Linked DNA regions of Homo sapiens: regions 1, 2, 3 and 5 are each reported to be linked to region 4. Evidence: microRNA targets listed by miRTarBase, many of them from high-throughput screens and not tested one by one. Region 4 holds a microRNA gene; each other region holds the end of a gene's coding sequence.

Region 1 (6,100 bases), not on the chromosome of region 4:
TTCTCTGGCCTCAGCCTCCCAAGTAGCTGCGACTACAGACACCCCCCACCACGCCCGGCTAATTTTTATATTTTCAGTAGAGACAAGGTTTCATTATGTTGGCCAGGCTGGTCTCGAACTCCAGGCAAGAATGTTTCTTTGAGACAGCAACTAAGTTCACAATGACCTTGAGTAGACTCCGGAGTGCTATAGTCTGTGCGTTCATTCCACTTTTGGGGGAATCCTTACAGATCCGTGAGTGTGAGGGAACTGGAAGCACAGGGGGCCCACCGGGAAAATGAAATGATTTTAAAGCAAAACCTCTGACCTGACTTGAGAACCTGGCACGTATCAGGTTTTACCAGGCTAAGACAGCAGAGAGACATGAGTTCTTCTCCTCCAAGGCGTATTCTGTACTGGGATGGAGGGGAATCACCACCTACACAAATACTTGAGTCCAAGGAGAGAGCAGGAAATAACACTGCGCTCCACGCAGAGTTTGCCTGTTCCAGGCAGGAGGCAGGGAGAGGTGGAGGCAGAAGGAACAAAGAGCTCATTGAGTAGCACCTTCCTCAACCATGAGACTGACCTTGCGACCCCAGCACCTGCTGGGGAGGGAAGGGAAGGGACACAGAGCCTCTGGCTGCTGGAAAGGGGAAGGATTCACATTAGTGAATACGATCTCCCTTTAGCTATGGAAACTGCAGAGGATGCACTGTCTTGGCAAAGGAGGTCTAGAGCGGGCCAGAGCTCTGCAACAGGAGACCGCAGAGCGGGCTGGGCACCTGCGGCTGGGCATACAGGCTTAGTGCATGCTGAGGGTTTATGTCACCGAGAGGGGTGTCTTGGAACTCCTATGTCTATTCAGTGCTCCCTGCTGGTATTTATTATTTACTTCCTTGGGCAGGATTAGGGTCAGGCCTGCAAGCACTTGTTGGTCTAGCAAGCTACAGGAGGTTTTGTACCCTCAGGGGGAAGATGCATGTGCTGGGTGAGGCTGCCTTCAGCAGAATAATGACCACCCCTCGTCCAAATGAGAAGTGACATTTCAAAGCAGCAGCTTGCAAAAAACCCTCAGCTGCTGATCGCACACGTTCTTCCCTTAGAAAACACCCATCCGGCTGGAGGAAGAAGACGCGGAGCAAATAAATTCAGATGTTTTATTCTGTAAAGCACATATGCACATACTTCAAACACGGAAAATTAATCTGGAAGTGAATGCCATAACAGATCAGCTACTGACCATCATGCAGCAAGAGGTGAAATGGACCCACTGGCCCTCAGGACCCCACAGTGCCTGCAGGAAGGGTGAAAACCCAGGAAGCTGAAGCCCTACACGCTGCCGAGGAAAACGCAACAGACATGGCAGGTGCCTCACGACAAGAAACACTTACAAATAGAATCAAAACTGATTCAAGTCATACAGTGAAAGGACAAAAGGAAAAAGGAAAGAGATCAATATGATCCGAAACAATCGTTTTAAGAGTAAGTTGCTGACCTTCTGCTGGCCCTCCAGTCCGAGATGCCTGAGGGTGAGCTGGTGCTCCTGCACGGGGCCGCCCTGAACAGCAAGCGCACTCCGTCTGTTGCACACTTCGAATCCTGAGGTCCACCAGCAAACTCTGGCTGAGCATTGAGCCTGGGAAGTGCCCAGATGGTGACAGGTCCCCTGGGCTTCCCGAGACTCGCTGGAGTCTCTTCAGGTCCTAGGCCTCTTCGTCCAGGCCCCCAGGCCTCCTCTCTCCCCTCAGCCTTCCTTTATAAACCTGATTGACTCTGCGTTTCTGTAAGATCTTTAAGAATTACTTGCTTAGGTGAATGTTGGATTTTAAAGTGTGTGTCCTGGCCTTGGGACAAGCCATCTGTCCAGGCATTTTTGGCACTTCCTTTCCTCACATCTAACAGTGTTGCCCCTCCCCTAGCTACAGATTCCAGCCACTCTCTGTCATTAAAACAAGGGTAACTAATATTAGCAACAAGCTGGATTGAACGAACCAGTGAAATTGGCTTTTTCACTGTTTTTCTCCTTTGATACCACTCTGCCAGCTATAAATCTATCCCTATAACTCTGCTTCATTGGGATTTTATTAATTCAATAGCAGCTTAATCTAAAATCTGATGGTCCTAATGATAATGACGTTTCTAGAGCCAAGCCACATGGCTCTTTCTCAATCTTGTCTCTTAAGGGTCTCAAAGTCTCTAAGGAGAAAACTAAATTAACAAGTTAGCCATGCATCGTGTAAGCAACTCGTATCATACATAGAAACTGGATAGACAAGTACGATTACTGCACTTGAAACATACTAAAAGGAAAAAGAAAAATACTAACATATCAAGTTACTATGGTGATTATTTTAACAATCTTCAATAAAAGCACGCAACTGTTTTCTATTCAAAAATGCCTGGGATAAAATGTTCTAGGCCAATGTATTTCAGAATGCAGGAACTAATCCTAATTTAAAACAGACTACAAACCTAGAGTTAAGGAAAGGAAGCACTCATGGTCATGTCCAATGTTTTCATTGCCCTTCTGTTATAACACTGCCTGGGAGAACACAGAAGTTATTAGTGACAATGAGCTATTAAGGCAAAAAGTTATTTTAAAAAAACAGTAAGAATACAAGAAAGGACTGGAAAAGATAATGTATGGTTTTGCTTAAATGAATAAGGATTAGAAAGAAAAAGAAACAGGGACTAGACAATCAAACAAAATGGTGTAAGAGGGCCGAGAGCAGTGGCTGACGCCTGGAATCCCAGGATTTTGGGAGGCCGAGGTGAGAGGATCATTTGAAGCTAGGAGTTCCAGACCAGCCTGGGCAACAGAGGGAGACTCTGTCTCTACAAAAAAATTTTAAAATTAGCCAGGCGCGCTGGCACACGCCTGTAGTCCCAGCTACTCAGGAGGCTAAAGTGGGAGGATTGCTTGAGCCCAGGAGTTGGAGGCTGCACTGAGCTAAGCTCCAGCCTGAGGGACAGAGCAAGACCCTGCCTCCCCCCTCCAAAAAAAAAGAAAAAGAAAAAAAGTTATAAGAAAAATGCTTTCAGTTTTCCCTGATAAATGGCAAATCAGAATTGCATTCCTTCAAATTTTGCAGGCATCGTTTTCGTAATTTTACTGATCTACTAGTTGCCATTTCCTTCTGAAGATATGTTAGTAGCATGAAAATAAAAGCAAAACAAAAGGGAGAAAATCCACCCACTCTTTAAAAAAGAAAGAAGAAATCCTTTCCTATTAGATAGAATCATTATTCTTTCTTTCCATACTGTCATCTGCATTCCAGAAAGCAGAAGAGCAAACAGTCACTCTAACTCTAGAGCCATTTACATTTTGAAGCCCTTTTGAGTGAAGAGGCGCTTTAACTTTGATAACAGAAGGGAGGGACAAGAGTGGACGACAAGACAGTAGAACCTCCTATGCCAGCTCCAACAAGACCAGGTTCCTGGTCATCCATGTGGAAAATGAAACTTAGATCTTTACCATGTATGTGACTTAAATATTTAACTTTTTAGTCAGGATAAAAGCACAAGTCTGTCCTAACTAGAGTAGTATTAAAATGTGACTATTTTATTTTTTCTTCATAAAGGAAAACAAAAAACAAAAAAACAAAAACAAAACAAAAAAAACTTAAGGTATGTTTCCTGCAAGCAAAATGGAGAAAAAGGTATTATTGTTGTTACTATGATTATTAAGCCACAAACACATAAAATCCACAAAATGGATTGGTGGCTTTGGAAATGCAATACCGTATCAAAGGTGCAGACTGTTTCAAATGTTCTCTACATATTGGGCTGAAACAAGAACCAAACCAAACTTCAACCCCATCAGCGACGCAATGCTCCTGTGACCTTGGTGAAAACATCGTCGTGACCAGCTAGATCCAGGAATCCTTCTCTAGAGACACGTGGAAACGTCCCATCAGGTAGGTCCTCAAGTCCAAGGTGGGGTTGAAGGGCTCTGGCTGTACCCAGGGCAAAGCACGTGCATTATTGGACCAATTTCTGAATAGATTTTTATAAATATGTACAAATCAGTTACAGGCACTTGAAATGTCTTTGGCTGGAATAACCCAACATCGCAAGATAATGTATTCACAGAGCATCCAGGCCCAGGCTGGGTTCAGCAGGCAAGGATTATGGTTCTCTCAGTCTCTCTCAAAAAACAAGGAGCTGTGGAATTAGGCTTCAGCCAAAGCCACCTGGAAGACAGCAAGCCAGGGAAACCAGTCAAAAAAGGGAAGCCTAGGTAACTCAGCCCCTACCCAAAGACCAGGATGCCACACTAATTGCACATATCAACCAGACAGTGAAGTTACTAAATCCCTAAAAAGAAAATCTCACCTAGGAAGAAATTACTAGAAATCTCAAAGTCTCCTGCAAGACGCGGCCCATCTGGAACCACTGTGCGGAGACAGAATTAACTGGTTTTTGTTTTTTTGAGACACGGTCTCGCTCTGTTGTCCAGGCTGGAGTGCAGTGGTGCAATCGTAGGTTACTGCAGCTTCCAACTTCTGGGCTCAAGCAATTCTCCTTCCTCAACCTCCCCAGTAGCTGGGAATACAGGCATGCACCATTACATCTGGCTAATTTTTTAACTGTTAGTAGAGAAGGGTTCTCACTATGTTGCCCAGGCTGGTCTTGAACTCGTGGGCTCAAGTGATCCTTCTGCCTCAGCCTCCTAAAAGTCCTGGGATTACAGGTCCACCTAGCTGAGGTAACTGTCTTTAAACCTTGATAAGCATTCTGTTAGAAGACTTCTTATGCTGATGGAACTACAGAGGAGGCAGCTACCCAGAGTCAGTAGTGCTCCAGTGGAGACTTGAGAACAACTGCCAAGTCACTCCCTTTAATAGCAACAGAGGCTTGGGTATATGATTAAAAATCCAACAACATAATTTAGGTTGAGAGTAAAGACACTTCTAATGAAGACAGAAACTACCGCTGGCCTTCTGTAATTGTGGGTTTCATATCCACAGATTCAACCAAAAATACACAAAAGAGGGCTGGGCATGGTAGCTCACACCTGTAATCACCTGTAATCTTTGAGAGGCCAATGTGGGTGGATTGCTTGAGCCCAGGAATTCAAGACCAGCCTAGGCAATGTGGCGAAACCCTGTCTTTTCAAAAAATACAAAAATTAACCAGGTGTGGTGATGCATGCCTGTGGTCCCAGCTACTCAGGAGGTTGACGATCGCTTGAGCCTGGGAGGTCAAGGCTGCAGTGAACTATGATTGAGTCATGAGCTACGATCGCACCACTCTACTCCAGCCTGGGTGACAAAGTGAGACCCTGTCTCAAAAAAAAAAAAAAAAAAAATTAAAAAAGCAAAAATACTCAAAAGAAAAAAAACCAATACATAAGAATACAACAATAAAAATAACACAAGTTTTAAAAATACACTGTAACAACTATTTACATAGTATTTACATTGTATTAGGTATTATAAGTAACCTAGAAGCTGGGCCCAGTGGCTCACGCCTGTGATCCCAGCACTTTGGGAGGCCAAGGCAGGTGGATCACTTGATAACAGCAGTTCGAGACTAGCCTGGACAACATGGTGAAACCCTGTATCTACTAAAAATACAAAAATTAGCTGAGTGTGGTGGCACATGCCTGTAATCCCAGCTACTCTCGAGGCTGAGGCAAGAGAATCACTTGAGCCCAGGAGGCAGAGGTTGCAGTGAGCCAAGATCGTGCCACAGCACTCCAGCCTTGGTGACAGAGCAAAACTCTCTCAAAAAAAAAAAAAAAAAAAAAAAAGAAAGTAATCTAGAGATTAACGTTACAGAGGATGAGCTGGGCACAGTGGCTCACACCTGTAATTCCAGCACTTTGGGAGGCCAAGGCGGGTGGATCACTTGAGGTCAGGAGTTTGAGACCAGCCTGGCCAACATGGTGAGACCCGGTCTCTACTAAAAATGCAAAAACTTAGTGGGACGCGGTGGCTTGCGACTGTAATCCCAGCTCCTCGGGAGGCTGAGGTGGGAGAACTGCTTGAACCTGGGAGGCGGAGGCTGCAGTGAGCCAAGATAGTGCCACTGCACTCCAGCCTGGGAGACAGAGCGAGACTCCATCTCAAAAAAAAAAGTTACAGAGGATGTGCAGAGGTCATATGCAAATACT
Region 2 (6,100 bases), not on the chromosome of region 4:
ACTGTGTTGACTTTCTGGTCTGCTGATTATATTATTTGTCGTTTGTGGGTCTATTTTCTATTGATTGATTTGCCTACTCTACACTGGACAGGGGGATCCAGGAAGCCTTCATAGGAGAAATAACCCCAATAAGGGGAAGTGTCCTCCAGGCAGCAAAACAGCACACGAGAGTAGGGTAGAGTGCAATAGAACAGCTCAGGGAGCCTGAGAAATTCCGTGGCACTGGAAGCTGGGTTATGAAGGGGATATGTTTAAGGGCTAAGTCTGGAGAGGCAGGCAATGGCTCAGATGGTGAAGAATGTGATCTGTCAGGTAAGCAGGCAGAACTCATCCTATAGAAGGTAAAGAGCCTCTGGAGCGATCTAAAGGAGAAAGTGTCTTTTGTTTTAAATGCTCACTAGCTGCAGAGTAGAGAATGGATTGAGAGAGGTGAGCCTGAAGAAAGGCCACTTAAGAAGCTATTATGGTGGTTAAGGTGAGAGATGAAAGTAGCCCGGAAAAGATCAGATTCAATGGGGTTGAAGAAAAGTGGATGAATTTGATAGACTTTTAGAAGGGAGAATCTAATATGATAGAAAATATGAGGGTGATTTCTGGCCCTTCACAGGAGAAAGAGGCTGAAAGAGAGGAACGGAGTGAGGAGAGATTATGAAATGAGTTAGGATGGGTGGGGTGTATCCTCTGGGGTTCCCATGCCAAATTTCCTTCAGGTGACCAGTTTTACCTTTCTCCCTGCCACCTTCATCCCTGCCTGGTCATTAAGGATGGACATGCCACTTGTCTTTGCTGGACCTTAATTTCCATCCATGAAATGAAGGGACTGGGATTGAGCCCTTCCCTCTTCTCCCAGGCTGGGCTGAGCTCTCCCTTCTCTGAGTCTTGCAGTATCTGTCTCAGTCTTACACTACTAAGCTTTTGCTGCCCAGTATCTGCATTCTGTTTCCCCAAGAAGAGTTGAAGTTCTTGGAGGGGAGGGCACCTTAAGCCACTCGGTATCCTCTACCAGCTGCTTGCAAAGGCTTCTTCAAACCTGAGAGGCCAGTCTTCCTGGGTATGGAAGACTAGTCTTCAGGTTGCTTCTGGCTATCCCCAACATCCTTACTCTCCAGAACTTTCAGATGCTGGGTCCAGGGCCCATTTCACTGAGCCCTCTGCAGCTGGAATTTATCTTGCCCCAGAGCCCAGCTGAACAGCACTGGGGGTGGGAGATGTAAGCTGATGGGAGAGAAACATGGCAGGAATCCTGGTTCTAGGAGAGTTGGATCCAGATCCTGTGTCTCGTAGGGATGTATGTGTGTGTTTATGTGTATATGTATGCGTGCATGTGCAGACATATGTGTGTGCACGTATGACACATTGGAGTGTCTCTGTGGGTTTTTTTTCTGTATTAAGTTATATGTGAAGTTCCATTGGTGTGTCTGCACTAAATCATGATGCATAAGTCAGCGCACACATCTCAACATCTATACGCCCATGACTATTAATGCCTGTGTATGTGTGAGGGCCTTTGCTGGAAAATGCATGTGTCTGTCCACATACCTGTTTGCAAGTGGGTGCATATATGTTATACACATATACGTTTGTGTGTATATGGGTGCCGCACTGTGTGTGTGTGTGTTTATGTGTGTGTGTGTGTTAAGTGTTATATATAAATGGAGGCAGGATACAGAGTCTAGTTTAGAGCATTTGCTTCAACGTCTGGCTACCTGGGTTCAAGCCCTGAAATCAGCATTTAAAAGCTATAGGCCTTTGAGTAATTATCTTTTTAAAGCACCGGTTTACTCGTCACTAAATTGAAGGTAATAATAGTGGCTACCTTCAATGTCTAATGTGAGGGTGGAATGATATAATGCCCAAAATGCACTTAAAATAATGCCTTATACGTAGGGGGTGTTAAAAAATATTGGTTGTTACAAAGTAATTCATGACAATAAATATGTAAGTGGCTGACTTGAGGGTCTCTGAGGCTTTCTGCATGTGCATCTGTGCCTTTGGGCACGTGAGGTTGATATGTGTGTCTGTTAGAATGTGTGTGTTGGTGTGGATAGACGCCTCTGGGTATACAGGCCTGTGTGGGGGGCTAAGTGGGCATGTGTGTTTGTGGTTTGCCTGTGAGTGCCTCTATGTGAGTTTGTGTTCTGCCAGGATTGGGAACATTCCTAGGGAAGGGATTGTGTCTAATTAATTATTGTACCCAGGCCCTTGGACCCGGGACATAAAAACTGCTAAGCAAATTTGTGTTGACTGAATGAATGAATGAAGTGGACTGGACATTCAGAGATTGTTATTCAGACAACATGCCCATTTGTAGAAAACAAAAAGGTGTAAATAGCTAGCTAGCTAGATGATAATTGAGTAGGGAGGTATGTAGACGATAGGTAGATAGGAGGTAGATGATGATAGATAGATAGATACATACATACATAGATAGATACATAGATAGATACATGGATAGATAGATGACAGGTAGCTAGACAGATAGACAGCTGAGATTGGCTCTAAGTGGAATCCTATGTACTTTCTCCTGGAAGTTATATTAGAGTTCATATGTCTCAGGGTGCTCCAAAACATCGGCTCTGGCAGCTCTGTGAGTTATTATGGAGTTGCTTTGAGGGCCTTCAGAGGAAGGAATCACAGAATGGGAGAGCTAAGCTCCCCACCTGACATCAACAAGAATCTATTTGCTTTTAATCTCTGGTTGTCCAAGTCGAATTGTAAAGTTTCACTACTATAAATTTTTGAAAATCTTGTTACAGACCAACCCCTTTTATTCTACAGAAGGGAGCAGCTGAGCCTCAGAGAGGGGAGAAGGTTAGAACCTGACCTCTCTTTCAGGCCTGTTTCTACCATGCCACCTGCCTTGGGATGTAGTAAGTATGACTCCGCTAACTCACTGGGAAACAGAATGCAATTCTTCTCAGGAACCCGTCTTTTAGAGAAGCCACTATCATAGTGGCCCTTGGGATGTCTGTCCAAGAAATGACCCCATTTGTGTCAGACCTGCCCCATTAGGTCAGCCCCTTTGGCTATGTGCTAGATGGTCCCAGTCCCCTGGCCCAGACTACTGGACCCTGACCCAAGCAGCAAAATCAAATTCCCTGATGCAATTTGGAGGTGGGATAGCAACATGCTAACCAGTCTCTGTTGGTCCCTGAATTAGGAAGTGATGTGAAGCTAGAATGTCCATATTTAATCAAGGGATGAGTGAACAGGAAAAGCTGGCTTCAGAGACATAAAAAGAAAACAAAAGCGATGCAAAAATACACAGTCATAAAAGGCTATGTGGCTTCAGAAAGAGGAACAGAAGGCAAGACAAACTTTGGTTTCTTTTGGCTTGCCAGGCCCCACTCCCGGAGCTTGTGCAGCCTGGATGTATCTCTTGCACTGGAACTTTGTGCTCTTATGTCCTTATAATTAACTCCCTTTTTGCCTGAGAAATTGTGGTGGGTTTCTGTTTCTTGCAACTACACCATCTCTGAACAAGGCAGCACATTGGAACGTCTCCTCCAAGCAGATACACAGGCTCGGCACCTGCTGGTCCACCTTGGTTCCTGATGTGTCTCTGAGGCCAACTTTGCGAGGCCTTATCTGTAGCTGTGGGAAGGGCGTAAGTCAGTGTACACATGTCAGCATCTATATGCCCGTGAGTATTAATGCCTGTGTATGTGTGATGCCCTATTTGCTGCATCTGTGTCGGGTGCTTTGAAGTACTCATTAAAGGTCTCCAGAAAGGGACTTCACCCATCTCCTAGGCTTTGCAGTTTCATTCCCATAGCAGGACTGGTGCATTGCTTCTGTTGGGACTTCTTGCTTAATCCTTCAGAGCAAGCACAGCACTGTTTACAGTGAGAGGTACTCCCTTGGGTGATGGAGTTTCTGCATCAAATTAAGTCATTCCTCCAGCATCTAGGTCCCAAGGATGTTTGTGTAGTTCTCTAAGTCACAGCATGTCTGTGGTATGGTGGGGGATAGGGGAGCTATGGGGACTAGTTCTTCCTGGAGCAGAGTCTCCAAAAGTGGCCCTTTGACATGTTCCCATGGCAATTTTTGGAAACCATGATAGAAACAATCAGAGGAAGCAGAGTGAACACAAGGGTCAGTTTCTTCAATTCATGAGCAGTCAGAACAGGAGATGCTTAGGAAGGAATCGTGGCTGGTGCCTCTTCTCCATGCTCATCCCATACCCCAGTGACAGGATACCGCTTCCCTGAAGTTAAAAACATGCACCACACTTCCGGTAAAGGCTGGAGCCACAGAGGGCACCTAGCAAGCTTGCTTTCAAGGTCCCATCAACAAATGAGAAGGGCAGCCGAGGACAGATTGACAGAAACCCCACTATGTTGCTTTTCTTTTTTTTTTTTTTTTTTCCTGAGACAGAGTCTTGCTCTGTTGCCCAGGCTGGAGTGCAATGGCACAATCTCAACTCACTGCAACCTCCACCCCCTGAGTTCGAGCAATTCTCCTGCCTTGGCCTCCCGAGTAGCTGGGATTACAGGCGCCTGCCACCATGCCTGGCTAATTTTTGTATTTTTAGTAGAGACGGAGTTTCAGCATTTTGGCCAGGCTGATTTTGAACTGCTGACCTCAGGTGATCCACCTGCCTCAGCCTCCCAAAATGCTGGGATTACAGGCATGAGCCACTGCGCCCAGCCGAGAGTTTTAAAGAAGGTGAAAGCTCTTCCCTTTTCCTAACCTAGCTTGGCCTTGATTCTATTAATACCAAGCCTGTGTGAATTGGAGTGGAAAGCAGAAGTGCTGAAGGGAGCCATTGCCAGAGGGAAGAACACAAACTTCAAGGCCAGATGCTCAGCGGAGCTCTCAGAACAGCCAAGCCAGGAGGACAGTCAGGAGGACCATAGGCCAGGCCACCAGGAACCCTGAAATACAAGAAATATGACTGTCAAGTGTTGGGCTTTGGGAGTCAGGAGCAAACATAAGTTGGCCTCTTTGTCTTTCACAACACAAGGATGAGAAAGGCAAAGCATCTTTGATATCTGGCCTAGTTATAGTCTCTGGGACTCACATGGTAGAGGCAATCTAATCACCAACCATTTTTTTCATTTTCCTCTGGACACACAGGAATGCAATTTTTCCCAGTGTCCTTTGCAACTAGGTGGGGCCATGTGACCGAATCTGGTCAATAAAATGTGCATAGAAGTCATCTGTGCCATTTCTAGGTCTGATCCTTAAAGCCTCCTATATATCCTGTTGCTCTCTCATCAACCATCTAGGGAGCAGATGCAGAGGATCCAAGATAGGACTTGCAGGGGATAGTGGAGTTACCAGAAGTTACCAGAAGGTAGTAGAAGCCTGAGCTCCTAACGACTACATGGAGCAGAACTGCATCCCCTCCCCCAGTGATTTAGTGGGAAACAATACTGTCGTCTAAAGACACAGAAGACTGGGGACTGTTTGTTACAGCAGCTAGCATTATTTATGCTGACTAATACTGAAGGGGCAGAAAGACACAGAGGTTAAAAAGCACTGCCTCTGATGCCTGATTACTTAGCTTAGAATCTCAGCTCTACACCTAGCTGGGCAGTCCCAGAAAAGTTATTAAACCTCTCTGCCTGTATTTTCCTGTATGCCAAAGAGAAATATTAATAGCAGCTGTGACTTCACTGGATTTTTGTAAGGCTTAAATGAGTGAGTTCATATTAAGCATTGAGACCATTGCCTGGCACATGGTAAACACTATATAAATGTTGGTTTTAAAAGCTAGACTCTAAGATCTAGTTCTGCTGGGATTGTATCTCTTTGGCACATCACTGTGTACTCAGTTTCAGTGAAGGACGTGGATCCCAGATGATAATGGTCTTGTATCAGAGGGCCTAGGAGAAATATGTGAGCCTTCCTGCCATACTACCAAATTGTAAAATCTCCCCATTACCCCAATTTCAAAGTAACTGGCTGATGTCCTAGAAGTGAGGAGAGAAATATCATAAATTTCAGAACAGTACATGACAAAAAGTTATAATTATAAAAACAGGTTGATGTTCAATTAATTCTAAAACATCAAAGATGATTGTGATAGCAGACAATGAAAACCACAAGTGCCCTCTTGTAGTGGGTAGGCTGTCTCAACATCAGACTGATCCCC
Region 3 (6,100 bases), not on the chromosome of region 4:
GAGTGGCTTTCTCTTTCAGACCCTCTCCCGGAGCCCCATGGCTGCCTTCCTGATACAGACCAAGGACAACCCCATGAAGGCCGTGGGTGTGCTGGCCGGCACCATGGCCACCGTCGTGGCCATCACTGTCCTCATCTCCACCGCCACCTTCTGGCGCAACAAGAAGTCTAACAAGGTCCTGCCAATGCGGCGGGTGCTCCGCAAGCGGCCCAGCCCTGCGCCCCGCACCATCCGCATTGAGTGGCTCAAGTCCAAGAGCACCAAAGCCGCTACCAAGTTCATGCTCAAAGAGAAACCTCCCAATGAGAACTGTAACAACAACAGCCCAGAAAGCTCTCTGCTCCCGAGAGCTCCGGCTCTCCCTCCACCACCCAGCGTGGCGCCCAGCACTGGCGCAGCCCAGTGGACCGTGCCTACTGTCTCTGGCTCTCTCACTCCGCAGCCGACCCAACCCCCGCCAAAACCCAAAACTATGGGAAGCCCCGTCCAGTCAACTCTGATCTCTGAGCTCAAGCAAAAGTTTGAGAAGAAGAGTGTGCACAACAAGGCTTACTTCTAGTGTATGCCCTATGACCCCCCATCTTTCCTCCGCCCCTGACCCCCACCACCCTGCTGCTCGGACTATGCTCCCCTTCCTCTGCTCCTTAAGGTCACTGACCCCTGTTTTGCACAATGGTATAATCCCCACTGTCCTCATCTCTACCGCCACCTTCTGGCGCAACAAGAAGTTGCGCTCTGACAGGGCTCTAGTCAGGGCCTTGGGCAAGACATTGGGCTCTAGGATGCAATTGGCAAATACGTCCCCGTTACTCAAATCCTTGGCACTACTACAATGCCCTCCATTCTTCAGGGCTGAGAATTGACGAGAAGCCAGCTCACCCATCCCAGACCTCACAGTCCCTCAGGTTCTACTGGGATCTCATCATCATCCTTAGTCAAGCAGCAGGGCCCTGGCCACGTGGAGCAACACTGACTAGAATCTGGATCCTGACGCCTGCAGCTGAGAGCAGGAGCAGGAAAAGGAGGCTCAGCACTGTCTCAGGCTGGAGGTCAGCGAACCTCGTGGGCTGTAGGAAAGCAAATGTAGGTAAGGGGAGAGCAAGGATGCACAGAAAACACACTGACTGTGGGACTGTGCCAGGATGCATTTGGAAAGATAGAGCATTCTGTCTGGGCAGAGACTGTGGACCCTGGTATGCCCACGTGGGACAGAGGACACAGAGGTGGAAGATTGATCTTGCCAAGAGTGAGGGCAGATGTCTCCAGCCAGGACTGCCCTGAGCCGCAAAATGTCAAAGCTGGAGCTATAGAGGTAGCCCTAAAGGCAACTAGAAGAGCATCAGGGCTGCTCTCTGAGGAGCTGCCCCACCAGCCATCCTTGAAGAGACAATTCAGGGCAGTTGATGAATATCAGGGCTGAGATGTGGTGAGACTTCCGTTTTTATCCAGCTCTTTTGCTCACATCGCGTAACCTTGGGAAAGCTGTTTAAAGTCGCTGATCATCCTCTTCCTCATCTGTAAATGAAGAAAGTAGGCCCTGTCTACCTCACATGCAGGTCTAGGGTGAGGATTGAAGAAAATAGTGGTGATGAGGGCTTTAACCAAGTGCAAAGCGGCATGAATGCAAAGTATTTTTCTGCAGCCCAGTTCTGTGGGTGCAGCTCTTCCAGAAAGTATTAGGAGCCTCACATCTACTCTGCCAAGCGCCCCAGCAGGCACTGTGCTGGGCTTAGGGGCTACCACTGGATGATGGCATTGCCGTGACTCACACACCTCTACTTCTGTTCTTCCCTCACTCCATCCCCGCTACCGTCCTGGCCAGCTACCGTCAGAGAGAACCAGAGCTCCAAGTCTTTAATTTGCCAAGATGAAGAAAATGAGTTCTCAAGGAGGGAATGCTTTGCTTGAGGCCACACAGCAGGTTGGTAGCAAAGATCTTGTCTAGCCAGGGCAGCCCTTATCAGCTTGTGACAACCTTCCCCAGGACAGAAGTCATACAAGGCCTCTGGGGTTAATACAAATAGGTTGTGCCCTGCTTTAAGGAACCTGCTATCAGGAAATCTACATGTGTGCACAGAGAGAGAAAAGTAGAACAGTTCTTTGCATTTGGCTCTACTTACTAACAACCCCTCTAGAATACATTGGTGATTTCATTTAAAGAGATTGTATGCATTTGTGGCTTTCCTGATTTCTGAGTCTGTGTTTGGAGGTGTTACTGAGATGTGCCAGTGTGCAGAATCCTTGCTGGGGTTTCTACAGTCCCCAACGTGAACAGTATTAAGCAAGAGGTGGACTCGAGCAATCCAGGAGCCCAGACTGAGCAAATAAGTACTTTCCAGCCTGTGTTTCAGGAGAGGACTGTGCTGGATCATGCTTGCCCTCCACAGGGAATACAGCATCCTTACAGCTTGCATGCAATCAACCTCTTTTGTAAATGGAAAATAAAGTCTGTTACCCAAAGGCCATGCTGATCCCCTGCTCCCTGCTTTCATTTATGTTTGCTGACCTGTGGAGACCAGTCTTTCTGACACACAGTGAAGCTCAACTTGCCTCCTGGCTGCTTCAGCAGGTGGATCCATTCTTCGACCCCCAGATGTGACTCTAAAGAAGGCTGAAAATTTTTGTCCAAATTGCCATGCAGATATCTTGAACAGCAGGACATTTGCAGGCCTTGTCTACTGGACTTTTCTCCCAAACAGGACAAGCCCAGGCAGGGCTGCATGGAGAGGAATGGAACCTGGAGCTAGAATTAATTGCCCACTCTCCCACCCTACCAGTGCAGCCCGGCAAGGGCAGGAATTGGGAGGCCTAGGGTGGGCATGAAAGCTTGGGAAGCACTGTCGTCTCTCAGACAGGCGTCCTAAAGACCTCTAGGCTGGAAGCTTGGGCTTGCAAGTGGATCCGGGACCGAGGGTGGTCTCTTGGACAACCCCAGGAACTTGGACCAAGGCAGAGCCAATCTTGCAAACTGGCCATGGATGGGGAAGTGCCCGGTAGCCAGCATGAGCCACACTAGGAAAGAGGAGGAGGGTGCAGCCAAACTTAAGGCACCGGCAAGTGTTGTCAGCACTGGAGGAGACCCCGCCAGTGGGGTGAGGCCAGCCAAGTCCCTGTGTTACGAATGGTGGGCCAAGGGGCTGTCTGCTAGGTCCCAGTAGGACAGGCAGAGCTCCAGGCTGGCACCATGGTAGGCCTCCAGGGAAAGAGCTGGGAGGCAGGAATGGCACACTGGGCAGGCTTGCCCATTCCTGGCCCTGAGAATGGAGCTGTAGCCTCATGGACAATAAATGGATGTGACACCAAATACTCTGCAGAGTCATTTTCCTCCTGCGGCTGAGCTCAGATCTTCCAATCACGTGAAATAACAAAGTCCTTTACAGTTTGACAGCCCTAGGTCTGAATTCTGGTTCTGCCATTAATTGTGACTTTGGGCAAGAGGTCAAGTCTCTCTGGGCCTCACTTTCCTCATTAACACAGGGTGCAAAGTATGGTTGCAGAGAGGATGAAAAGATCTAATATATGTAAAGTGCCTAGCACCGGCTTTGTATCTACTTACACAAGCTCAGTAGACACTTGCCGTGACTGTGGCCCACATACTAGAACACCATGTCCTGAAAGAGAGGACCCCCTCCATGCATCCTCACCCCCCAGGATGTTTCCACCCACCTGTAGGTCCAGAAGCTTTTACTTCATGCTAGAAAAAGAGAAGAGAGTGGATCCAGAGGGGAGTGGAGGACAGGGCAGATGCCACAGCATCTGTGGCCTGTGTAGCCGGCAGCCTGCATTTGGGCGTTGACATTCCAGGGGAGTTAGGAACAATGAGAGGTCTCTAAGAACTTGTGGCACTCTGTCCTCAAGCAGCTGTCCCTCAGAATCCTGCTAGAAAAGTGTGATCAGAGCTGGGAAGGAGCCACCATGCTCTGCTTCTCTAAGGATTTCGGTGATTCTATTTTTAGGGACTGAAGGCGTTGAGGGAATCCAAGGCCAGTCCACCTGCCAGGGGTGTTGGCATCTGTTGACAGGCAGTGGCACATCCTGACAGTCTTCAAGGCCTTGGCCACCAAGGGATGGAGAGGGAGAATGGAGAAGATGCCACATGAGGAATGAGGCAGGAGACTGGCATGTGCCACATGGAGGACCCCTTAGGAAACTCACAAACAACCTAGGGAGGGGTTCTCTGAAGGGCCTAGTTTCCAGAATGAGGCGGTCATGGCTTAAGCGACCATCATTTGATCAATAAAGCAGAGTAGCAACAGGCTGATGTTGGGGACATCGGTTTGATGTTATAAAATCGTGCACATGTACCCCTTTTGAGGCCTGAATGAGGTTCGGTTATTTATTCATTTCTCAATAATTTACTCAGCCATTCCTAGGGTGACAAGTTTGGAGTATATCTTCTGTGCCAGGCTCTCTTCTAGGTGTTAGGTGTATGTCTCTAACAAGATAGAAGGAAAGAAGAAAAGAAAAAGAACAACATTCCTCTCTTTAATTGCTAATCGCCTGGGCCTAGGGAGTCTTCATTTTAAAAGCAAGTAGCCCTGCTTACAAATGTCTCCTCAATCAAAGGCATTTGCCTTAAACTTGTATGGTCTAAACTCTAAATAAATAAGCTTCTCAAGGGCATGACAACTATATCGGAAACTGTAGCATCTTTTCAACATGAATTAAACAGAACATGTGAAGGATATTAGCCCAGATATCATGTTATTACATATATATATTTATAAGTATACACACATATGTAGTCTTAATAAGATGTGATATTCCAAATGGCCCTATGTGCTGAGTCACATTCAAAGAAAGCACAAACTGATGTAGATGCCTGAAATGATGGTAACATTTATTATTGTGACATTTACTGAGGGTTTACTATGTGCCAGGTATTGTTCTGAGAACTTTGTATGTTAAAAAAAAAGCCTCGTATAATTACCAGAATAACCCTATGAGGTAAGGACTGTTATTATCCCCATTTTACAGGTGAGAACACTAATGTACTATTATTATTCTATTTTATAGGTGAGAAGACTAAGGTACATGAAAAATAGTAACTTCCCTGGTACAACAAAGTCAGTAAGAAAACCAAAATTTAAGCCCAAGAAACCACATTCCAGCCAGGGTCTGTTCTTGCATCCCCACTGCGAAATTGCCTTATTCAATCTGAGTAATGTGAATCTGTACTCTAGAGTTTTTCAAGGGGCAGCCCAAGCATCTTAAAAAGTATCAGATTCTCAGAAATCCTCCCTAGACCATTTTCCCTCTCCCTAAATTTCTATGTTTACAGAAGCAACTGAATACTTCCCTACCCACCAACATGCTCCTGGCTCTCCCCTGCACTGCTTGCTGCTCTTCCACAGCCCTTCTCTCATCCTGACCCCTCTGTCTCATGTGCACCACCAAGCTTCTTTTGCTTGGCTTGAAGGTCTGAACATCCACTCTCACCTTCATGGTAGCCCAGGCTATTTCATGATGGTGACACCCTCAAGATCCGTAGACCACTGTATTAGTTCGTTCTCATGCTGCTAATAAAGATACCCGAGACTGGGTAATTTATAGAGGAAACAGGTTTAATTGACTCACAGTTCTGCATGACTGGGGAGGACTCAGGGTGGAAGGGGAAGCAAACATGTCCTTCTTCACATGGCGACAGGAGAGAGAAGAATGAGAGCTGAGTGAAGGGGGAAGCCCCTTATAAAACCATCAGATCTTTTGAGAACTTACTCACTATCATGAGAATGGCATGGGAGAAACTACCCCCATGATTCAATTACCTCCTATTGGGTCCCTCCCATGACATGTGGGGATTATGGAAACTAAGATTGAAGATGAGATTTGGGCGGGGACATAGCCAAACCATATCAATCCCCCTTGATGCTATGGAAGGAAGTACAGAGAGGCCACAAGAAGTACAAGTTCTTTTCTTGCTCCAACCACTTTTCTTCAAAAATTTATCATAGGAAATTCCACATTAATAAATTATCTACTACATTACATGTATGTGTGTGTTTTACACATGTGCATATCTAAATATATATATATGTCCATCTAATTTTAAAATATCTGCTCTTAGGAGTGGTAATAACATTGTGTTTATGTTTTTTAA
Region 4 (6,100 bases):
CTCATTTAGGCCTTCATGACTTCCCATTCTAAATACTATATTAACATATCTCATCCATTCCCTTTAAACCTTGTCATCTTCAATCAATAAAAATCTGCAGAAGCCTTTAGCTTAGTTTCTTTTTCTACCCTTAGTATTAGACCAAGTGTATGGGGAGATTACATTGTCAATTTTCAGTGGTATGGGTGCATTTTGCATAGAGGGAGGTAGAGAAAGAATAGCATTCTCAGTTACAAGGAACAGCATCAACTTGTGCAATTTCCTGGAATAGTTGGAGGCAATTTCAGAAGTACAAAGTAGCCTAGTGAAAGATTCTCCCGTACTTACATTAGTGTCAAACTTTGAAACACTCCCATTGTATATTTTACCTGCTAATTTGAACGTTAAAACAGACCTGACACCTATAATTTTCCTATGACAACAACCCCATAAGATTTAATCTTCTTTGCTTCTTTTATTAGATACTTATATCAGCTGAATGTTTTTCTGTTGCTTTTTGTCCTCTAGCCTCATCTGATCCATCTCACAGATGTTGGGGATTCAGGGATTTCCCTTAGGTTTAAGTATCTCCCATCATTACCAGCATTGGCCTCTTCCCACAGTCATGTTCCCATCAATCACATGGACTTGGCCACATGGCAGCTTTGCTGAAGGGCCCTGCAGCCATCTCCCACAAACCCTTGCCAAGAGGTGACATTCAATCTATCCACAGAGAATATTTCCATTCTGCCAAAACTGTAAAACTGTCTGGGATTGTAGTACCTTCCAGTTATGTGCACTAGGAGGCACCTTTTAAAGACATTAATCAGTTCCCTAATGATTTCATGGTACAGCAGGTGGAGCTCAGGTGACTTGTGGCAGGAAAGTAAGGCCACAGCAATGCTGGCCTAGTGGTTTAAGGTCAGAGCCCCTGAAACTCTTAAGTCACAAGGCAAGAAAAGTCCACTGGGCATTTCTGGGACCTGTCCCAAAGATGAGAGAATATCCTAAATACTAGGAGAACACAAATGTCCTAGTTGTCAGGTGAAGGATGCCCCCTAAATGGGGCTTATAGGATTACTCAGCCTATTACTGATCTCAGCCCCATCATTCTAGGGCTGCCATCTCCTCAGTGGGCCTTCTTGGCTGGATCTAGAAGCATCTCTGGAGGGCTTGCCCAGTGTCTCAGGCACGTACAATACTTCCACCTAACTCAAACCACATGCAGAAAGATTATGTCATACTTGGCATTTAACCAGTTGAGAAAGGCATCAGAGGGTGTCCAGACTTCAACTTGTTTGAACAAATGTTCAAAAAACATTTCTAAGGGGATATTCCAGAAAAACATACCCACTTAAGCTCTTAAAACAGATGGTCATTCTCTAGGATTGTGTTGCTTTTCAGCCATTATTATTGAGTGCTGTAAGTGATACCAAATCACTTTAAAGTTTGAATTATGATGGCTCTTCAGATTTTTCTTGCAGGTTTATTGTGGGTTAGGAGAAGGATGTGGCAGAGAGCAGTACACAATGCTGAGAAAGAAACATATTGTTGTACTTCAGAGTCTGGGCTTCAGAGTTGGGCAGGTAAAGGCTTAGATCCCTGACTAACTGGGTGACTTAACTTCTTCAAACCTCAGTTTCTTTATTTATAAAATTAAGATAATAACATTGCTTACTTGATGGGTTTGTGAAAGGAACTAAAAGAGATATCACATATAAAGGGTCACCATACTGCATGCTATGTAGTAGTAGTAGTACTGTTGCTGCTGCTATTTCTAATACAGGCAGTGGGGGCTATTCCCAAATTAGATGGAGAGTTGAAGAGGGCCTCAGGGTCATGATTTTCTAGCCTAAGAAGAAGGTGGTCAGACCATGGAGAAAGATTCCAGGACTGCAATTTTAGCTTGGAAAAGGGTAAATGCCAGAGCATGCAGGGACCTGATATTTGATTTTCCTCATCTGAGAACGAAGCTCTTCTTCCCTTCATTAGTTTGCTATGTGCCCTAGCTCAAGCCACTGTAGATCTCTGGGTTTCAGTTCCCACACTTGAAAACAAAACCCTATGGCATGTATTTGCAAGCTAGCTGGCCTAAACCAGTCTTAATCTGTGAATGGAACATGGCATATGCAAACTCGTCCACAAGGGACATGATATTAGTCTCTGAAGGCACTAAGCTAATCTAATCAGCTCCTAATCCAGAGATATGCTATAGCCATCACCAGCCATCATCATCATCTTTGTTAACAACAGCCAAGCAGTGATATCTTGGGCTCATTGCCAGAAGGAAGCATGTTCTTACTTTCAATATAGCCATCATGTTGGTATTTCACGTTGTAAAATGTTAGATTTTTAAATATGTATCATATGTTTGGACTTATGGTTGTACAACTCAATAAGAAGTTTTATAACTTTCTTTAAAAAGGACTGAATCAAAATTTTCTTTGCACTTACATTCTTTCATTTACTTTATGTAGTCTTCTACACATGCGTCTTAAAAAATACAGTATAGTTATTTGGCTATTACCTATGCTGTATTACATTTTTTATAGATAATCAATTATCTGGTTATATGTCAGGCCTGCAGAAATAGTGCCTTCTGATTTGATGCCAGTGTATGATCAAGTTCCTTGCCTTTTAACTAGTATTTATGTTATAGGCAGAATGTTAAATCAGGAATTTTAAACAATTCCTAGACAATATGTATAATGTTCATAAGTCATTCCTAGAAATTGTTCATAATGCCTGTAACATATATGCAAATAACAAGATGCCTGAAATACATAGGAAACCTTCAAGATGCTAACTGGCCATCTCTATGACATCTTTGGATTGCAACATTTGTTTTAGCAATTCTACTTATTTGTCTGTTTATATGTCTACATATTAATCATAATTCTAGTAATAATAATGCTACTTAATTTTTATAGCTCTCACAAATTCCTGAATTTTTACTAGCTGTTTGGTGATTCAGGGCTTTGAACACGCTCATTTTAAGAGGCACTAGAAATAAAAGAAACCAACAAACAGATATAAAGGGAAGCTTGTTTATCAGATCCTCTAAAGCCCCATCCAAATTTTCTTATTCCTGTTCACAAGCTTTAGCTCAAGCTTCCTTTCCTTTTCCCTACCTTACTCGACTCCATGTAAGCAGTTTTTAATATCCTAACTCCTCCAAGTTTTCCTAGGCTACTCAAAAGAAACCCAATAAATTGTACCAACCTCCTCTGTGTCAACATGAAACTTCCTTGCCTTTCCCTGCTCACCTCCCTGTTAATGGGCCTGAGTATGCACATGGTGTAATTGTTTTATCTATATATTTGATTCCCATCTGTATTTATCTTATTTTCATTTACTATTTTGAAATGATCTACACATTGGTTTATGTCAACATTGTCTATTATAGGTTATCTCTATATAATCATCCCCGACAATTTGGAGATGAAGAAGAAAAATGTTGAATTAGTTTAGCCTTTGAGAGTTAAGATCATATTGCATCACCGACTGGAATTCTTTTCTCTCTCAGGCTGGAGTATCTCCAGTCCATTCCAACAATTAAGCCATTTTGGTTAACTTCTGATTGACTAATGTAACTGGACCATCTCAGGAAGCCCAGTAAAATGAGGCCAGGGAATGAGCTAGCAACATGGGATGTGGAACCAAGGGGTAAACCTCTGATTTATTAGGCAGGGCCTTCTAACAATTGACATCAGAATCTATTATAGGTGCCAAGGAATTGACTGATGTTGTAAGATGCTGTTGAGCAATATTTGACAGTCATATAAATGGGTGCTTAAACCTGCTCAGATGAGAAACCTCACTCCCATTTTCATCTCTACTGTATCCAGAGATGACTCAACTGTCAGGGACCAGCTCAGATGTCTTTTCTTTGTGAAACTCCTCTAGTTGCTTTGGGTCAGACTGGCCTATCTTTTATTTTTTTTCTTTTTTCTTTTTTCTTTTTTATTTTTTTTGAGACGGAGTCTCATTCTGTCGCCCAGGCTGGAGTGCAATGGCACGATCTCTGCTTCCCGGGTTCACGCCATTCTCCTGCCTCAGGCTCCCAAATAGCTGGGACTACAGACGCCCGCCACCATGTGCGGCTAATTTTTTGTATTTTTAGTAGACACGGAGTTTCACCGTGTTAGCCAGGATGGTCTCGATCTCCTGACCTCGTGATCTGCCAGCCTTGGCCTCCCAAAGTGCTGGGATTACAGGCTTGAGCCACCGCGCTGGCCTGGCCCATCTTTAAAAAAAAAATAACAAAAAACTCCTCCAGCCCTTTAAGTTCATTTTGTCTCTAGCACTGAGTTTTGCCAATCTAATTATATACTGTATATACTTTTTATGTATGATAGTTTCATGTATGATTTTTTCACCTATGGTGACCATATTTTCCAAACTAAAAGTTGGAATACATTATCTGAAAATGTAGGTAGCCTATTTGAAATTAATAGTGCCTTGGAAAATGGATGCTCCTTCCCCTCTGTGTGCCTCACCTACTAAATATTCAATATTGGCTGCTATTGATGATACAAGGATAAAGAATGATGCAAGGTGGTATCTACTAAGTGTCAAGTGAAGGACACTAATATACTTTGGACTTTTTAGTACAGAGAACCATTGACCAAATACGTTGCTACTATGCTTGAGGAATGATGCATTGATTCTGAAAAAGAAAAGAAATATGGTGTGGGAAGGGAATAATGGCAACAAAAATACTAGTAGCGAGAGATATTACGTAAGAAACATGTCATATAAAACATCATATGAGGATAGTCTAAAAAGATGGGTGCTTGTTATTCAGAAAGACAAAAGTAAAAGGGGTATCACTGAAGTCTGTAAAAGGGTGGATCAGGTGGACTTGGATTTGTTTACTGGACTAGCTATATTCCTGAATACCAAAATTTCAAGTAAATTTAGGAAAATGAAAGGGGTGATGAGCACTTGGAATTTGTTATTTTGAGAAGTGGTAAAGGCTGAGAATATAGCTTAGGAGAAGAGTTTAGTTTTATTTAAGGCAAGGATATTAAACTGTTTTTATTCATTAACCTTTTAGCTGAATTAGTTAAGAAGGTAACTGGTTAATCCATTTTAGACAAGAAAGCAGTCATTTTATTTGGAGTCAGCTCTGATGATAGCAACAAGAAGAAATGTCTTTTTTTATTATTATACTTTAAGTTTTAGGCTACATGTGCACAATGTGCAGGTTAGTTACATATGTATACATGTGCCATGCTGGTGTGCTGCACCCATTAACTCGTCATTTAGCATTAGGTATATCTCCTAATGCTATACCTCCCTCCTCCCCCCACCCCCATGTCTTGCAGTGAGGGTAAGATAAATGTGGAGAAAATTATTAAAGAACAGCAATCAGGAATCAGCTTAGGGGATAACTTTCCTGCATACCTTAATTACCCTTAAGAGTAGCACAGCATAGTACAGTGATTCATTTTTATAATAGTAACCTTGAAACATTAAGGCAAATTTAGATTACATTCCATGTACTCAGTTCATGTGTACTTCATGGTTTTTAAAAATAGGACTCCAAGAAATTGTTTCTAATCAAATTGGAAACCTCATCACAACACCTTGGATGTTTTCATATCGAGAAAGAGGACTATAAGGTACAAATGATTTCCAAACATAGGAAGGAGTTATTTTTTTTAAGATTAACAGTCCAGTTGATGGAAGGCAAGATAGTATATTCCTGCTAGTAAAGCCGATTGAACTTTGAAAGGTCACAAACAAAAACTTATTTACATAGTACTGTTTTGACCCTTCTGCCAAATGCTAATAGCATTTTTTTTGGCAATTCAGGGAAATTAGAGAGCTCTGAAGTTCCAGCAGAGAGAGAGCAATCGTTATAGATATTCTTTAGATTGGATATCATCAACAAATACCAGAGTCCTTAGGAAAGCATTTTCAAATCTATTTTCTCTACTGAACAGTGCTCATGACTAATGGGCCCAAGGGACGGTGGCATTTGGAGGCCGTCATTCACTATGACAGCCTGCAAGCCAGCCACAGAGTAGGTGGTGGTATGCCAACAAAAACTGAAAGGAGGAGAGAAACACTTTTCGTTATGTAGCAAACCACTGGGTAAATTTAAGATTTATTG
Region 5 (6,100 bases), not on the chromosome of region 4:
AGAGGGAAACTGGCTTTCTTGCCTATTCAGAACTGTGTTTTGTATGATAAAAGACCTCCTGCATCTGGGCTTGCCTCTCCTAAGGCGACTGCAGCCCACATGAGCCACAGTGTCCTGGTTTTACGGGGAGGAATATCACTGACTCAGGGAATGGGCCGTGCTGTCCTAACATCCCTTGGTCGTGTGAGTGTTAAGAGTCTCTGCCTGTATGAGTTCCTGTGGCTGCCATAACGAAGGACCACAAACTAGAAAATGACAGAAGTTGACTCTCTCACAGTTCTGGAGGGTAGAAATCCAAAATCCAGATGTTGGAAGGACCAGGCCCCCTCTGAAACCTGTAGAGGAGAGTCTTCATTTCCTCTTCCGTCTCCTGGTGTCTCCTGGCCATTCTTGGCCTTATTGGCTCCCCCTCAGCACTTTGATCCTCACCTCCGCCATCACACAGCATTCTCCCCTGTGTATCTGTGTCTGTCTCCTCTTTATTTTAAGGACACAGGTCATATTGGATTGGGGACCCTCCTCCAGTCTTCATCTTAACTAATATGTGTACAACCACCCCATTCCCAAATAAGGTCACACTCGGAGGTACCAGGGGTTGGGACTGCCGCATATCTTCTGGGGGATACAGCCCAACCCCTGCCACCACTCCAGCCCTGGGCCACTCCTTGCATGGACTTGGGGCCAGGTGTGACACAGTGGTTGGTTTGTGGGGCTGGAGATATCCACGTGTGGCCTAAGGGACCTCAGGTTTGCTGATTCCCCATTTCCGCCTCTGCTTGCAGTACCCTTCAGCTTTGACCCCAACACCGCAGCTGGCTGGCTCTCCGTGTCTGACGACCTCACCAGCGTCACCAACCATGGCTACCGCGTGCAGGTGGAGAACCCGGAACGCTTCTCCTCGGCGCCCTGCCTGCTGGGCTCCCGTGTCTTCTCACAGGGCTCGCACGCCTGGGAGGTGGCCCTTGGGGGGCTGCAGAGCTGGAGGGTGGGCGTGGTACGTGTGCGCCAGGACTCGGGCGCTGAGGGCCACTCACACAGCTGCTACCACGACACACGCTCGGGCTTCTGGTATGTCTGCCGCACGCAGGGCGTGGAGGGGGACCACTGCGTGACCTCGGACCCAGCCACGTCGCCCCTGGTCCTGGCCATCCCACGCCGCCTGCGTGTGGAGCTGGAGTGTGAGGAGGGCGAGCTGTCTTTCTATGACGCGGAGCGCCACTGCCACCTGTACACCTTCCACGCCCGCTTTGGGGAGGTTCGCCCCTACTTCTACCTGGGGGGTGCACGGGGCGCCGGGCCTCCAGAGCCTTTGCGCATCTGCCCCTTGCACATCAGTGTCAAGGAAGAACTGGATGGCTGAGCTGGCCCGGGGCTGCCCCGGTCTTGTGCCACAGCACTGTTTTCTTTCTGCCCTCTTCCTAATGCCCACACTGCTTGGGCACTATTGCGCCCCTGCCTCCTTGCCAGGCTCTTCCTCCTGTCCTGCCTGGTCCTTTTCCATGACTCCAGGCTGTGCCTCTCTCCATGTTTGGTCCCTTCTGTGCCCATGGTCAGGAGCTATTCGGGTGGCACCTCGCTGGCCAGGCTCTCCCGAGTCGTGGCACCTCCACAATGTGAATTTTCTGAATCCCTATTCCAGGATTTCTGGGAATAATGTTTACTTCTAGAATGGGCCTGTTGTAAACCATCTCATCGAGGTGTGGTAAAGCCATTGGATGAGGAGGGGACTGCCATGGAAAGGAGAGTTTGTTACTTACGGTTCTGAGAGGAGGGGCCACATAGGAAAGCCCCACGGTGGGTCAGAAGGCGGAAGGAGGGAGGGGAACGTGTGGGCAAGAGACTTCCTCTGGTTTCCTCAGGAGGAAATGGGCAAGGCAGAGTAAGCAGGGGAGACAGGTTTAAGGGTAGCTGGCTTGAGTAATTTCAGTGGCTCTCAGGATAGGGGCTGCCCTTTTTGTCTGATACCTGGCCCCGGGATAGTCAGGACAGGTGAATGTTGGCCTGGGGTGTGACAGCCCTGGGAGAGCCATGTGAAGGAGGCAGCTGGCGCCATCGCTCCGGATTAGTTGGTTTCCATAGGAAAGGCATGCTTTCAGCCAGATGCTTGCCATCTCTAGGGATTGGGGGATTGGCTAGCCTGGGAGGATCAGTCTGTCCAGGTCAGCGAGGCCCCAGATACCAGAGCATCAAGAGTACAGGAAATACAGTTAATGCAGGGCCTCTGTGTGGCTGGATCCTCCGTCTCCATCAGATCAGCTCTGATTGATCTATTCTTGCACGATTTCCTCTGAACACAGGGTTCCAGAGTACTTAAACACAACATTTTTTAAATCGTGATTTCGGCCTATTTCCTTGCCAGGCCTGTTTCCCCACCAGGAAATGAGATAGGAGGACTGGATGAGGATGTCCTGTTATAGTTGCTGTGGAGGAAGTTCCTCTGGTTAATTCTCATCAGCGTCTGCAGAAAAGAAGGAAAGAGGGCACCCTTTTCAGTTGGGAAGAAAGGAGAGGGGTGGCGCCATGGACGTGGCCCTAAACGCTGTGGGAGAGGGAAGAGGAGGCTGGGCCTCGCTGCCCTCTTGTCTCTGCTGACTTCAGCCTGGTCATGCTTGCTCTGCCACTTGCGATTTCATCCCTAATTTCTTCCTCCACCATGCCTGCAGACTTTTCCCTGGGCTTGTTTTTTCTCGCACATCTCTGAAGAGTTTTTAATCTTCAGCTCATCATGTCCCAGGAAGTGGCATCATAAAAGGAAATATTTTTTTTTCCTAGGAGCAGTGTTAAAATCTGGGTCACATTCCTGACCAAGGACAGCATCCTGCCTTCTGCCCATCCCCTTCAGTTCACAAAAGCTGACATTTTAAACAAATCATGACTCACACGTATTAATTGGTTATAAATATGTTGTGTACACTGGTTAGATAAAACTTAAGGCCACAAGGAGGGCCCAGGTAGGCGATGTCAGTGTGTGAAGGGGCTGGATTGGGCGTGGTGAGGATGTTGGCAAACCAGTGCATGCACCTGGTTGGAAGATGCTCAGCCTCACAAAAGCTCCAAGCCCTTTGGGAGCCAAAGTGTCTGAGAGTGTGACCCTCTCCTGTAAAGTATTTATCCCACCCATTAATATAATTTCTGTATAATAAACTTGACCTGAAATTATTTCATTCTTTATATTAAACTTTTAAAAATGTTTTTTATTTTCACCTTAGATATGGGAAGAGTTTTTTTTTTTTTTTTTTTTTTAACAGGATAACTTGAGCAGGCTAGGCCTCTTAAAAAAAAATTTGAGCTAAAACTCATTTTTCTTTTGGCATTTTCTTTTCAATGTTCTTATAAGCAAAGTTCATCCATGTTGTAGCATGTGTTCAACTTTATTTTTTCATCGGGTAATATTCCATTGTATGGAATGGTAGTACTACATTTTATTTATCATGCATCGATTGGTGGACATTTGGATCGTTTCTACTTCTTGACTATTATACATAATGCTGCTAGGAACTTTTGTGTATGAGTTTTTGTGTGGACATATGTTTTCATTTCTCTTTGGTATATGCCTGGGAGCAGATTTGCTGGATCATATGAAACTCTATTTAACCCTTGAGGGACTCCCAAACTGTTTTCCAATGTGGTGACACAATTTTATATCCCATCAACAGGGCATGAGGGTTCTGATGACTCCACATCCCTCAGTGCTTTTTATTATCTATCTTTTAACTTAGCCATCCTAGTAGGGGTAATGTGGCATCTCATTGTGATTTTGGTTTGCATTTCCCTGATGGCGAATGATATTGAGCATCTTTTCATGAGCTTATTGGCCATTTGCATATCTTCTTAGGACAGCTATCTTTAGATCACTTGCTCATTTTTTAATTGGGTTATTTGTCTTTTTATTATTGAGTTGTAAGAGTCCTTTTATAGCCTGGCACAAGTCCCTTTAACTGGTATATGATTATAAAATTTTTCTCCGTGAGCTGTTTCATTTCCTTGATGATGTCCTTTGAAATACTAAAGCTTTTAATTTTGATGATGTCCAATTTTTATTTATTTTTTCTTTTGTTGTACATGTATCCTAGAAATCTCACTTTTGATACTGCCCTTAGGTCCATGTAAGTTCGGGGTTTTGGCTCAGGGATGGGGCAGTTATTCTGTTGGCAGGAAGCGCTAGTCCACGAGTTCATTAATTCTTCCCTGAAGCCCCTCTCCTGCCCTTGCCTTCCACTCACCCCGTCACTCTCCTTCTCATTACTGTGTCCAGGCTCAAAGCAGCAGCTCTCTGGGAAGGCCCCCGTTCTCCAGTTTCTCCCACTTTTGCATCCATTCCACATGCACCATCGTTCATGTTCCCATCACCTGGAGAGACCCCATTTCCAACCCGCTGCAGTGCATTTCTCCAGGGCAGCTCTCAGGGCACATTGTCACTGCACTCTGCCTTTATACCCGGAGTCTTCTCAGTCCCGTCACACATGGCTCCAGCCGGACCAGGCTCCTGTTTACCCTTGAAATAGGCCACCTGCCCTCACCAGGGGCCCGTTGTCACTGGAATGTCCTGACCTTGGTTGCTCTGGCTCTCCTGATCATATTGGCTCTGCCGCTTACGTGATATCTCCTGGGGCACACACTGCCTGCCTGATCTTATTTTCTCATCTGTAGAAGTGGGGCCCCTCCCCACCTCCTGAATGTCTGAGCAGTGTGAGCACCTCAGAAACTGGAGTCTCAGAGCACACGAGAGCCTCAGTAACCTCCAGGCTCCCAGTCATGTCCACGTCAGCCACCAGGTATCAGTTGGTCAGAATTAGGTGCACAGGGGCCATTTCCTTTTTTGCTTCCTCTTGCTTGTGGGGGATGAAATTTCTCTCAACAGTATTTGATTGCTCAATATCACAATAGTGGAAGTCTTTCGTGACCCTTGTGGTGAGTGATGGGGCAGTGGCGGGAGTTTTCCCACCTCCAGAGTGACATTCGAGACCCCTCCCCGGCTGACTCCTGCAACCACGGTCACCACTGTTTACAAAGACCCTGCCCAGCCTTCCTGGGTGCAGGGTCCCATTGTTCCTCCTGCCTGCAGCGCCTGTCGCCCTCCCTTTATTGTCGCTCAGTCCCCCTTGTCAGCTCGGAGGTGCCTTCCCAGACCTGCCCGGGGCTCCCTGGGCTGCCACTGCATGCCGCCTGTTTTGTGGAAGAGCACCTCGCTGTCTTTTCTGCTTGCAGACCTGGGAGTGCAGGAAGCATGTCATCTTCCTCTTTCAGGCCCCAAATCTGTGGATGTTGCTGGACCATAATAAATGATTGTTGAGGCCGGGTGCGGTGGCTCACGCCTGTAATCCCAGCACTTTGGGAGGCCGAGGTGGGTGGATCACCTGAGGTTGGGAGTTTGAGGCCAGCCTGACCAACATGGTGAAACTCCGTCTCTACTAAATACAAAGTTAGCCATGCGTGGTGGCGCATGCCTGTAATCCCAGCTACTTGGGAGGCTGAGGAAGGAGAATCACTTGAACCCAGGAGGTGGAGGTTGCGGTGAGCCAAGATTGTGCCATTGCACTCCAACCTGGGCAACAAGAGTGAAACTCCGTCTCAATAAAAAATCATAATAAAAAAATAAATAAATGATTGTTGAGTGCATGTATGGTTAGAGACGTGCACTGTGGGGCAGGAAAGCTGCCTTTGAAAGTGCCACAGACCAACTGGTGGCATTTTGGTAAGGAGAAAGTGGCATGAAGCCCACAGTCCAGATTCTGGATCCAGATGCAAGCCCTGTGATTTCTGGGCTGCCTGAATCTTCTGACCCTCTGCTCCCTTACACAGAACGAAGATGACAATATCTACCTCAGGCACTTGTGGGGATTCGATGAGGAAAATGACGGTAAAAATGCCAAGTATTGTGTTCTAAACCTAGGATAGGATTAATACACATTGGTGAATTCTTCAGAAATGGGAGATTCTGAATATATAAATTGTGATTCCCAATAATGACAAATCCCAAAGAAAAGTGAGAGATTGAGAAATAGAAGTTACCTGTTTTGGGAGTCTTCCGATTTCTTCAGATTTTTAACAAGAACGTTTGCATAAAACTCATGTTCATGAAAAACTTTCAGTAGCATGA

Evidence for each region. Region 4 holds the annotated microRNA hsa-miR-384 (AUUCCUAGAAAUUGUUCAUA, at 2,701-2,720, shown strand). A microRNA usually pairs through its seed, bases 2 to 8, with sites in the 3' UTR of a target mRNA and lowers its output. Matches are read on the target gene's strand: a 7mer-m8 pairs with bases 2 to 8, a 7mer-A1 pairs with bases 2 to 7 and ends in A, and an 8mer does both.
Region 1: miRTarBase lists TMEM248 as a target of hsa-miR-384. Seed matches in the 3' UTR shown: 7mer-A1 at 3,205-3,211.
Region 2: miRTarBase lists GP2 as a target of hsa-miR-384. Seed matches in the 3' UTR shown: 7mer-A1 at 4,685-4,691.
Region 3: the mRNA of CDHR1 is a reported target of hsa-miR-384. Seed matches in the 3' UTR shown: 7mer-A1 at 1,071-1,077, 8mer at 3,013-3,020 and 7mer-A1 at 4,144-4,150.
Region 5: miRTarBase lists TRIM35 as a target of hsa-miR-384. Seed matches in the 3' UTR shown: 7mer-A1 at 1,780-1,786, 7mer-A1 at 2,077-2,083 and 7mer-m8 at 3,492-3,498.

The regions. Positions count from the first base shown.
Region 1 is chr7:66,953,577-66,959,676 of GRCh38, reverse strand. TMEM248 (transmembrane protein 248) reads right to left here. Exons shown (of 7, transcript NM_017994.5): 7 at 1,126-4,175. The coding sequence ends at 4,155. Among named protein-coding and RNA genes, the nearest start is that of TMEM248, 35 kb to the right of the region's middle.
Region 2 is chr16:20,306,405-20,312,504 of GRCh38, forward strand. GP2 (glycoprotein 2) reads right to left here. Exons shown (of 11, transcript NM_001502.4): 11 at 3,170-4,877. The coding sequence ends at 4,819. Among named protein-coding and RNA genes, the nearest start is that of GP2, 18 kb to the right of the region's middle.
Region 3 is chr10:84,214,063-84,220,162 of GRCh38, forward strand. CDHR1 (cadherin related family member 1) reads left to right here. Exons shown (of 17, transcript NM_033100.4): 17 at 20-4,632. The coding sequence ends at 559. Among named protein-coding and RNA genes, the nearest start is that of LRIT2, 8.4 kb to the right of the region's middle. RefSeq lists an enhancer at 197-720 and a silencer at 614-803.
Region 4 is chrX:76,915,905-76,922,004 of GRCh38, reverse strand. MIR384 (microRNA 384) reads left to right here and starts at 2,645; the gene lies at 2,645-2,732. The region is part of intron 2 of MIR325HG (MIR325 host gene); the gene reads left to right.
Region 5 is chr8:27,282,810-27,288,909 of GRCh38, reverse strand. It overlaps TRIM35 (tripartite motif containing 35), which reads left to right. Exons shown (of 6, transcript NM_171982.5): 6 at 783-4,024. The coding sequence ends at 1,360. Among named protein-coding and RNA genes, the nearest start is that of TRIM35, 25 kb to the left of the region's middle.